2 separate regions of the Homo sapiens genome follow, and region 2 is linked to region 1. The links come from fine-mapping of genetic effects on gene expression. Tissue or cell type: whole blood. Region 1 holds a variant in brackets; the other region holds the start of a gene. All regions are shown on one strand. Distances are from middle to middle.

The links. PIP is the estimated chance that this variant, and not a neighbour inherited with it, causes the effect.
Region 2: it holds the start of COX5B, and the variant in region 1 is fine-mapped to the expression of COX5B in whole blood (INTERVAL, PIP above 0.99).

What each region holds. Positions count from the first base shown.
Region 1 is chr2:97,810,022-97,815,169 of GRCh38, reverse strand. TMEM131 (transmembrane protein 131) reads left to right here. Exons shown (of 41, transcript NM_015348.2): 14 at 782-935; 15 at 1,029-1,199; 16 at 2,421-2,531; 17 at 2,615-2,749; 18 at 3,938-4,042. Among named protein-coding and RNA genes, the nearest start is that of ZAP70, 99 kb to the right of the region's middle. The variant C/T (reference allele first, on the strand shown) is at 2,772.
Region 2 is chr2:97,643,231-97,648,378 of GRCh38, reverse strand. It overlaps COX5B (cytochrome c oxidase subunit 5B), which reads right to left and starts at 2,317. Exons shown (of 4, transcript NM_001862.3): 1 at 2,190-2,317; 2 at 1,239-1,312; 3 at 936-1,035; 4 at 1-383. The coding sequence starts at 2,292. The coding sequence ends at 271. RefSeq lists enhancers at 2,213-2,392, 2,573-2,622, 2,425-3,359.

The DNA.
Region 1 (5,148 bases):
ACTTTTTACTAATCAGTAAATTATATTTTCCTGCTAAATGACCTGCAGAAATACTAGCCACGTTCACATAAACTTGATGGAATTATTTTTTGAAAGAACAGCCCCAACTATAAAAGAGAAAACCTCCTATATTTTGTTTATATTTTACTTTTTTAGAAGAAAAGGGTAAGTGGGATGATAGGATTTGGGCTTAAATGAAGACTTAATGATTCAAAAATCTGATTTTTTAAATATTATTTAAATCATTTGAACCATTTCCTTTCTGACATTTGTTTGTAATATGTAAGTGATTGTGGCCTATTATTAAAGTATTTTGACACTCGAAACAGAATTCTTTATATTCCTTTATAAATTCATAAACACTTCTAGAATTACAACTTTTTATAAATGGGAAGTGACATGTTCATTTTCTATTGTACTTTAACCAATAGTAGTTTAATACTCAACTTGGCAAAGATTCATTTTAGCAAAGCTCCTTGTAATTCAGTGATAAGCATGATTTTTTTCAAAGTAAAGCTTTTTTTGTTGATATGTCTTTGATTCTAATTGTATGATTCATATAATTCATTAGAGAATGGTTGTTTGTATTAATTTCAGTATTTTGCAAGCTAAATTTTGTTTTAAATCATATAGTCAATCACTAAAATATTATAGTTCTAAATCTTTAATACAATCCCTAATGCTAAATGTAAATTATTACTTACAACAGAAGAACTTGGATTTTAAATTAACACATGGAAATAAAAATGATTTATTTTGTTCTTGTTGTTTTTTTTAATAGTTATTTGGGATTTGATCATGCTGCAACATTATTTCACATCCGAGACAGCCCTGCTGATCCTGTGGAAAGGCCAATTTACCTTACTAACACTTTCAGTTTTGCGATCCTCATTCACGATGTGTTGCTACCAGAAGAAGCCAAAACAATGTTTAAAGTATGTCCAGGAGCCCTCATACTTTTAATTTTCCTGGTCTACCAACTAGGTGATGCTGACACTTTGTTTTTTTTCTCTTCTGTCATTTCTCAGGTTCACAACTTCAGCAAACCAGTCTTAATTCTTCCTAATGAATCAGGATACATTTTTACCCTGCTTTTTATGCCTTCCACATCATCCATGCACATTGATAACAACATTTTACTTATTACCAATGCTTCTAAATTTCATTTACCCGTGCGGGTATACACAGGCTTTTTAGATGTAAGTATATTATCCATCTTTAACATTTAAACTCCCTGCCCACCTTTAATGTTTTCAGATCTTATTAGGCAGTCGTGTTACATACGGTTTGCCATTATTTGTGCTCTGCAAATTGATCTAATTCTCCTAGTCAGTTTTTACCTTTCCAGGTAACTAGTTTTTACCTTTTCTGGCAGCTCTCTCTTGTGATACAGTTGACTTCTCTAGTTACAGTCTCTACTTAGATCTTTTCCACATTCTGCTTTCTCTTGGATATGCTTTTAAACTATTGTAATAATGGGGAATATAGAAAAGAACTAAATAGAAAAATGATAGGTAGAAAAAGAATAATACAAGGAAGGTGAAGAGGGATATACGTAGGGAAGAGATGATCAAAACCAAGAAATATCGGGACAAAGAAGAGAATCAGATAGTAAAGAAGAAAATAAGGTAGTAAAGACGCAAAGTTGGAAGATTATATATGACACAGAAGGAAACAATGAAGGTACTCCTGGTACAGAAAATAAGCAGGGGGAAAAATTCCAAACAAAGCTATCTTGAGAGTGATCAATGAAAGAAGCTTAGATAAGAGAGAAAACTGTTAGGAAAGATAAAAAGAAAGCTAGGACATCTAGAAATGTAGCCCTTTAAATAGTTGGCATCGATTAGAATTTTAGAGCTGGAGGGACCTTCAGTAATGTCTCGCTCCTGCTTCAGTTATTTTGTTTCAGTGATCATTGGTGATGCTTGCTGAGACCACATGCTTTTTGCCCGATCCCCTAGGGTTCCACTAAACCTCTCTTAGTAGTTTAGCTTCCTGCCTCTTTCATGTGCCCTCAGAGGAAGAATAGCAACTCAGCAGAAGCCATGGCTGTTTTCATTTCTGATTACTCAAAAGACTTTCGTCATACAAAGCCCTCAACTATGTCGTATAAATGTGTGGTTTTATGCATATATACAAAAGCATAGGAAAGCATAGAACTGTAATTTTTTTTTTTTTTAGATGGAGTCTCGCTGTGTTTCCCAAGCTGGAGTGCAGTGGTGCAATCTTGGCTTGCGGGTTCAAGCGATTCTCCTGCCTGAGCTCAGCCTTCCGAGTAGCTGGGATTATAGGTGCACACCACCATGCCCAGCTAATTTTGGGGGGAACTTTAATACATCTTTAATATAGTTACTTTCTCTTCATAATATTGTTAGATCAATGTGACTTTTTTTTAATCTGGTTCTTTTATATCTTTCCAGTACTTTGTATTGCCCCCCAAAATAGAGGAACGTTTCATAGATTTTGGAGTACTGAGTGCTACAGAAGCAAGTAATATTTTATTTGCAATTATAAACAGCAATCCAATTGAGGTAAAAACCTGTTTTTATTCTAAATCACATTTAAGGATTTTATGCTTGTGTTGTGATAATCATTTTCATATCTTTTTTTAAAGTTGGCTATAAAAAGTTGGCATATCATAGGAGACGGTTTATCAATAGAACTTGTAGCTGTGGAAAGAGGCAATAGAACTACAATAATTTCAAGCCTGCCAGAGTTTGAAAAATCCTCTTTATCAGATCAATCATCGGTAAGTAAACTTTCTATTGTCT[C/T]CTTAAAGTAAGATGGATGTCTAAACTGCAAGTGGAAGATCATTGCTATGCTACATGTATCACTATTATTTTTATGCAGTTCATAATAGTGTTGGTTACTTGCTATTAAAAGGACCTTATAGGTAATGTAATTCAACCCCCTATTTTTATGATGAGGGCACTGAAACCCAAAGGGGTTTAATTCTGCCTTGTCATAAAAAGTTCTATAACACACAAATTTTTAATTATCTTTTTGTAACACAAGTGTCATTACAGGAGAGATTCCCATGGGTACTAAACTAACCTTGTGTTCATTGAGTTTACTGGGAAAAAGAGATGGCCCTGAACATTGGTAGAAAATATTTTCAATTATGCAATAATACGTCTGTCCAGATACTGCCTCAGTATCAGTGAGGCAAACATTGTTTGATCACTGTGAGTCTGCCCACATATTTTTACCTGTCTAATAAACATGTTACAGTTGGTTGTCAGAGAGCGCTAAACAAGAGAAAACAAATTTATTAGTTTCAGCACTCACCAGTACTGAAAGGGGAACTTGGAGTTTATACCTACTGGGAAAAGAATTAGAATCACAATCTGTGAGAAGGAGCATCAGATAATCTCATCTGCAGGTTAGAATAGAATTTCTTGGGGCAGTTTTACAAAAGGAAAAGCAAGTGTCCTTATACACAGAGAGTGTTGACAAACACGTTTCCGTGGAATGCCATAGGTCTGGTGTTTTGTTATATCTGACCTCAGCTGCCCTGAAGATATGAATATTAACATTACAGAGTGACATCCACAGCTTGAAGCAGAGCCAGCTGTGTATACAATTGTGGCTCCAGTGTGCCTGAAAGGTTGGTGGAAGGCTGTGTCCCTCTGCTCCAGCCCCTTTGGCCATACAGGTCCATGGGTAAAGAGTGAGGAGCTTTATTAGCAAGAGGACCACACCCCTCCCTCTTTCAGGAACCAGCTTTTTCAGTGGCCCATGGAACAAGTGTAGTAGAGAAATATCAAGGGATGGACACTATTTTGAGATATTTGTACACAGTGATATGGTAATTCAGTGTCATACTGGTATATGTTAGGATTTGTTAGTCATTTTATCGCTACACCCTTCATGTCCATTTTAATAGGAAACTTCAACTAACAAGGCTAATGAATGATACCATTTCTACTATCTACAGGTAACATTAGCTTCAGGCTATTTTGCAGTCTTCAGAGTCAAACTTACTGCAAAAAAATTAGAGGGGATTCATGATGGAGCCATCCAGATCACAACAGACTATGAGGTAAGGACTTTATGGGGATTCATGGCAGTGGGGTTTTTCTGAATAAGTCAGTCCTTTCTTGTCTTTATGAAACCAAAGAATTAAGTTTACTCAGAGTTACAGTTTACCAGTTTCATACCTTAAAAACTGAGCTTTCGAGAATAGTTTATAGAATATTGATGTTCATAGGCTCATAGTTTTTTGATAAAACCCAACCCTCCTAACCTAAAAAGCAACTTCAGAAGAATGCCTTTAGCACGTTTAGAATTGCTTTGTTAGAAACCTGCTTAAACAGATGGTTATATCATTGCACAGACCCCAGCTGAGTGTCCTGAGTTAGATACCTCTGATTGTTCCTACAATCATAAATAGCAGTCAGGGTCTAACATTTCTGAAAAGGAAGATAAAATCAGGAGATCATGTCCTAATCTGAGTGCTCACATTTATATTTTCATGAGTCATTCAAAGTCAAGGGACTAAAGGTTACTAAGCTTTTAATTAAAATATTCTGTGTGGAGCTTATTTTGCATTCAGTAAGATTTTGAATGGATGTATTTCTGCCAGACCTAAATGTTTTTAATTGTATATCTAAAAGCTCTTAGGAAAGTCAAGCACTGTTAAATTCAACAACTTACCACCTTTGCCCTCATAGATGTTTTCAGTGGACACAACTCCCACGTGGAAAAAAAATGTAATTATAAAATAAACAGAATTGGCCATTTAATAATAAATGATTTGTTGAGAGTATGTCAGGTGAGGAATTCATGGTTATCACTCATGACAGAAATAAGTACATTTCAGAATTCAGATAAATTTTTGTTAATATGGGTGAAAATAAGAATTAAGAAAAATACCCTAGAGAAGTAGCTTTGAGAGTTACTAACAGTATGGGATGGGATTCTAACTCTAGAATGTTCAGTGCATTTTTAAAAATTAGGTTGATGTCTATTTCTGTATCAAAAAAAAAGCTATATAACTCTAGATATGCTGGATTTTACATACATTGTTTTAGGAGTACAGTTTGACTTTCTTTTTTAAAATAATCTATTTTTATAGATTATTTGTATTTTGAAATACAAAAATATTTGTATTTTTAAAAAATCTGTCTTCATTGCTTCCCCGTTGTT
Region 2 (5,148 bases), 170 kb after region 1:
CCAGGTGGTCCCATTCATTGCATTACGGGTTGTCGATCTATTCTTATTATTAATCTAAGCACTATACACTGGTTATACACTTTCAGTAAGTGGATGGCAAGCTAGCATTAACAGACAGCTTTTCCCAAAATAAGCATATTCCATGCCTACCAAAGAATACGGGTAAGAAATAAGACCAGCCATCTATGGGAGAAGGAGCCAATGCAATGGCTAGTCTTTACTGGAAAGAAGAAACTTTACAGCACATTTTGAGTAATTTAGTGCAGGTGCTCAGTGTGCCAGCTGCTGGGGCACCAGCTTGTAATGGGCTCCACAGCGGGGGCATCGCTGGGCCTCGCCTTTGTGCAGCCAAAACCAGACGACGCTGGTATTGTCCTCTTCACCTAAAAGGGAAAAAAGGTGGTTTATGGTCATCCAACCTAGAAAGGGAGACTTTCAACATGAATTTCTTTTCCTCAGACATCTCTGATACACAAGTAAGACTATGGTTGATATCTTAAGAGATCAGTTCAAGCCCTCCTCCCATTCTTCAGATGAAGAAATTGAGGCTCTGAGTTCACCTATGAGTAAACTGACCTTGTATCAAGGTCACTGTAAATTCTAACAATTCCCTTGCCTATGTAGAACGCAAAGCAGGGTCCGTTCTGGTATGTATCCCTAGTGTCTAAAATGATGCCTGGCATAGAAGCAGTATAACAATAAATATTTGCTGGGTGGGTACTCCTTCATGCCGCACTCCCAGTGAGCCAGTCTTACCGCTGTGCTGCGCTTCTTTCCAGTAAGGATGAACTATCAGGCATAATGAGGCTTGAGAGTGTCAAGACCCTTAGACAAACTTACCAACATGCACTCACACACTGAAGATTTGAGGCAGCTTACACACTATTGTAGGATATATTAAGCAAGTGGATAAAAAATAGAGGTGAGGTACTTACAGATGCAGCCTACTATTCTCTTGTTGGAGATGGAGGGGACTAAATTAGGGTCTTCCCTGGTGCCTGAAGCTCCCTTTGGGGCCAGTACATTGTATGGGTCCTGAAGAAAAAACAAAAAACAAAACAAAACAAAAAAAACAAGAATTGAACCATTAGGCCAAATAAGCCCTACCTTCCAGAAGCTCAGGGGACTGTTCCTACAAGCCAAGTTTCCTGTATCAAATACTCCCAGAGAGGAGACCACTATGAACACATCCAAGGCCATAAGTTACACAGAAGACACAGAAGGGAGTTTCTCCTTACCAGTCCCTTCTTTGCAGCCAGCATGATCTCCCTCTCCAACCCAGTCGCCTGCTCTTCATCAGTGGGAACACCACCTAAAGGAAGATAACGTGAATTATGACGCTGACTGAAATGACTGATAGAAAAACTACAAACAGAAATGATCAAGGAAAATGGTGCCCCGAAACTTCTGTATAAGTTTTAGCGGGCTCACAAGCTCCTAAAGGCTACTCATATCCATGGTCCCCTAAGAACCACCAAGTACCCATCCACACAAGCGGCAGCACTCGGGGGAGCTTTTTTTTTCTTTTTTGAGACGGAGTTTTGCTCTTGTTGCCCAGGCTGGAGTGCAATGGCGCGATGTTGGCTCACGGGAACCTCCGCCTCCCGGGTTTAAGCGATTCTCCTGCCTCAGCCTCCCGAGTAGCTGGGACTACAGGCGCGCGCCACCACGCCCGGCTAATTTTTGTATTTTTAGTAGAAACGGGGTTTTACCATGTTGGCCAGGCTGGTCTTGAGCTCCTGACCTCAGGGGATCTGTCCGCCTCGGCCTCCCAAAGTGCTGGGATTACAGTTGTGAGCCACCGCGCCCGGCCTATGAGCTTTTCTTTCTCCAACCACCGAGGCAAATTTGTCGACATTTGTCTAAAAGCATGTAGAACCCACTCTGCTTGAGGTGGGCGCAGGTTTGAAGGGAGGCCGGACCCCTCCCCATCCCGGTGGCAGCCCCGGTCCCTCCCAAGGTCACCCGGCACCTCCGTTTAGGATACTTTCGCAGCGGAGTGAGTTCGGGGAGCGGCAGGAGCAGCGGTCCAGAATTACAGGGAGATGCCTGCAGAGCCTGAGGCACTGGGGACCGTAAAGCGGCCACTGGGACCTCGAGAAGCTGCACGAGCCGCGCCGCTTTGCCGCCCTGGGACCACCCTGGGAGGGCAACACTCTGGTCCCTGGCACGCCCGGAGACCCGAGTACCTCCAGATGCCATGGAGCGCATCGCGGCCGCGCCACTGGGGCCGCGAGCCCTCAGGGCCTGCGCGGCCAGCGTTCCAGCTCCGCGAAGTAACCTTGAAGCCATTGCGTCCGCGACTAGCAGCAAAACTTCCGGGAACAAGCTGCAGAGACAGGAGGGACTTCCGGGGGCGGGCTTCTTTCTCCTCTCGGTCAGCTTTCGGCTTCCTCCCAGCCCTCGAGCCCGCCCACTCCCAAGACTGTGGCGGGGGCGGAAATTGCGCATGCCCAGCTCTGCCTCTTTCTGCACCGCGTAGTGGCTGAGGCTTGGGGGCGGGGTTGCCTTTAATAACGCTGGGAGGTGGGAAAGTCTTTTTGGTCCCTGGAGTTGAGCGGCTGAACCACATTGGAGTTCCTGTGGGTCTGGCCCCGTAGTCGTGTTCAGCAAACGTGGAGGCTGCTAATGGAAGCTATTAGGTCCCCGTCTGTGAAGAGACTTACTGAACCCCAAATGATTTGAATTTAGAAGTGGGCTCCTAAAGATCACTGCGTTCCTTACTAGGCTGGTTAGTGGCAGGGCTGGTTCTGGCAGTGCGTGGGCCGTCGCGAGCGTGTCGCATTGGACGGGACCTACCTGCAGTCCTGGCCCAGTTTCGTGTTAGAGTTGTACTGTGTGTGGGAGGCGCGGAGGTCCCGGCCTGGGGAGGAGGACAGGGCCGGGGGCGGGACCCCCTACCAGGACCAAGGCCCTGGTGATGTGAAGGAAGTGGCCACTCTTTTTCGAGGCTACTAAGGGAGGAGGAGCAGGAAGGGGAGTTGATAATAGGAAATGGAGTTAGAGCCTGCTGTGACTGGAGTTCCTTGTTTGAAACGGAAAACATATTCCGTCCATGGCTTCCCGTTGCCCATAGGCTAAGATGTGCAAATTTCTTAGGGTGAGCTTTAGTCAGTATAGCCCTGTGACAGGCTAGCTGCATGCGGTATCTGAGTTTCCCTACCAGATAGAAAAATCCCCTTAGAGTGGGAATTAATGCTCATCATTGAATCTTCAATGCCTTGCAGAGGTCTGGTATATAGTAGGATCCAGTAATTTTAGTAAATTTACTACTTGGATAGAGTATACAAAACCAGTTTATAGGGCTTTTCCTGGCCCAGTGAGGTCAATTGGAGGCAACATGGGGAGAGTTGAAGGCTTAGGTGCTCCCGCCTGTCTCATGCAGGCTACGGTATTTTCAAAAGGACGTGGTGGAGCGTTGCTTCACAGGAGCACGTCTGGTCTTCCTGGGTGCCCCCTCCACCAATTAAAAAAAAAAAAAAAAAAACCCTGTATTCTAAGGCCAAAATTTCTTTAAAGGTGGTTTTTGCTTTGAATGGCTTCACTGTTACTCCCTTCTCCCTCACCTCCACTGCAACCCCTCCAAGTTGAATTGGGCGAAAATTCTGAGGATCTGTAGTTAATTTGCAACTGTGGTTAAGGTCTTAGGCAGGAGAAAAAAGCATTGGTCTGGAAAGTAGCCCCACCAGCTAGTTCAGCTACTTTTTATCCTTTGGGCCGCCATTTCTACATCAGTAAAACTGTCGTTCAACTAGGTTAGTATTTCCCAAAGTGTATTGCATGGCATCCAAGTCTCAAGACATGATCTCAAGAAAAAGGACTTGGTCAAGACAGGGAGGGCCTGCATTTGATGACCACCCTTTTGGAGATGGACACTAGCATAATAAAGGCTCTGATTAGGCTTGCAGTAAAGACCTCTTATTTAATTTACCTGCAGTTTAAGCCAGAGTTTCCCTGTCTTAATTGACCACAAAATCCTTTCTGAGGAACACCTACTAACTTGCCCCTCAGCAAACCAGTGAGGTATTCAGCTCTGATATGTTATGATTCCCTGCTGCCTGACCAGAAGTGGTTTACTCCAGGCTATAAAATGGAAATTGAGTTTAGGCTTCTCACTCTCATAGTAGGCTTGCCTAATAATAGGAAATTTTCGCAGGCCCTCATCCAACTCAGGAAAACCTCAGCCTCACTCTGGGATTATTTAGATTGTGTGAGTGAGCTCCAAGGTCAGGTCCAGGCTCCCCAGATGTCCCCGCATCCCTTGCTGCTTCCAGCTCCCACCACTGTCAACTCACACCCAGTCCCTCAGGTCTCCTTTGGAAACAGTTGGCTTGGGGAACAGTCTGCCACCTCTGCTCTATCATTGTCTTTGCCAGCACAATAAACTTATTTTTATAGGATAATTTTCAGTTGTCAAAATAAATGTACATTATAAGTTGAACAGCACAGATATATAAGGAACAAGCTAGCAGTTTGGTGCTTATCCTTTTTTTCCTTTCCCTATGACAGAGTTTCTCAAGCTCAGCACAACTGACATCTTGGGTTGATAATTCTTTGAGGGAGGTTGTGCATTGTAGGATTTAACCCTATGTCATTAGCACCTCCCTGACATGATAACCAAAAATATCTTCAGCCATTGCCACATGCCCCCTGGATTTGCAAAATTCCCATTGAGCATCACTGCATATATGAATATAAAATATAAAAACATAACTACTATACAAAGTTTTAGTTAGTTGCTTCTTTCATTAAAAAATATTTTGTAGGCTGGGTGCGGTGGCTCACACCTGTAATCCTAGCACTTTGGGAGGCTGAGGCAGGCAGATCACCTGAGGTCAGGAGTTCAAAACCAGCTTGGCCGACATGGCGAAACCCTGTCTCTACTAAAAATACAAAAATTAGCTGGGAGCGGTGGTGGGCGCCTGTAATCCCAGCTACGTGGGAGACCGAGGCAGGAGAATCACTTGCACCCGGGAGGCAGAGGTTGCAGTGAGCCAAGATCACATCATTGCACTCCAGCCTGGGCGACAGAGCAAGACTCCGGCTCAAAAAATATATATATTTTGTAGATGTCCCTTCAGATCAATACATCTAGATCTTAACTTACGTGATGGCTGCAGAATATTCCCTACTGTGAATGTACGTTAA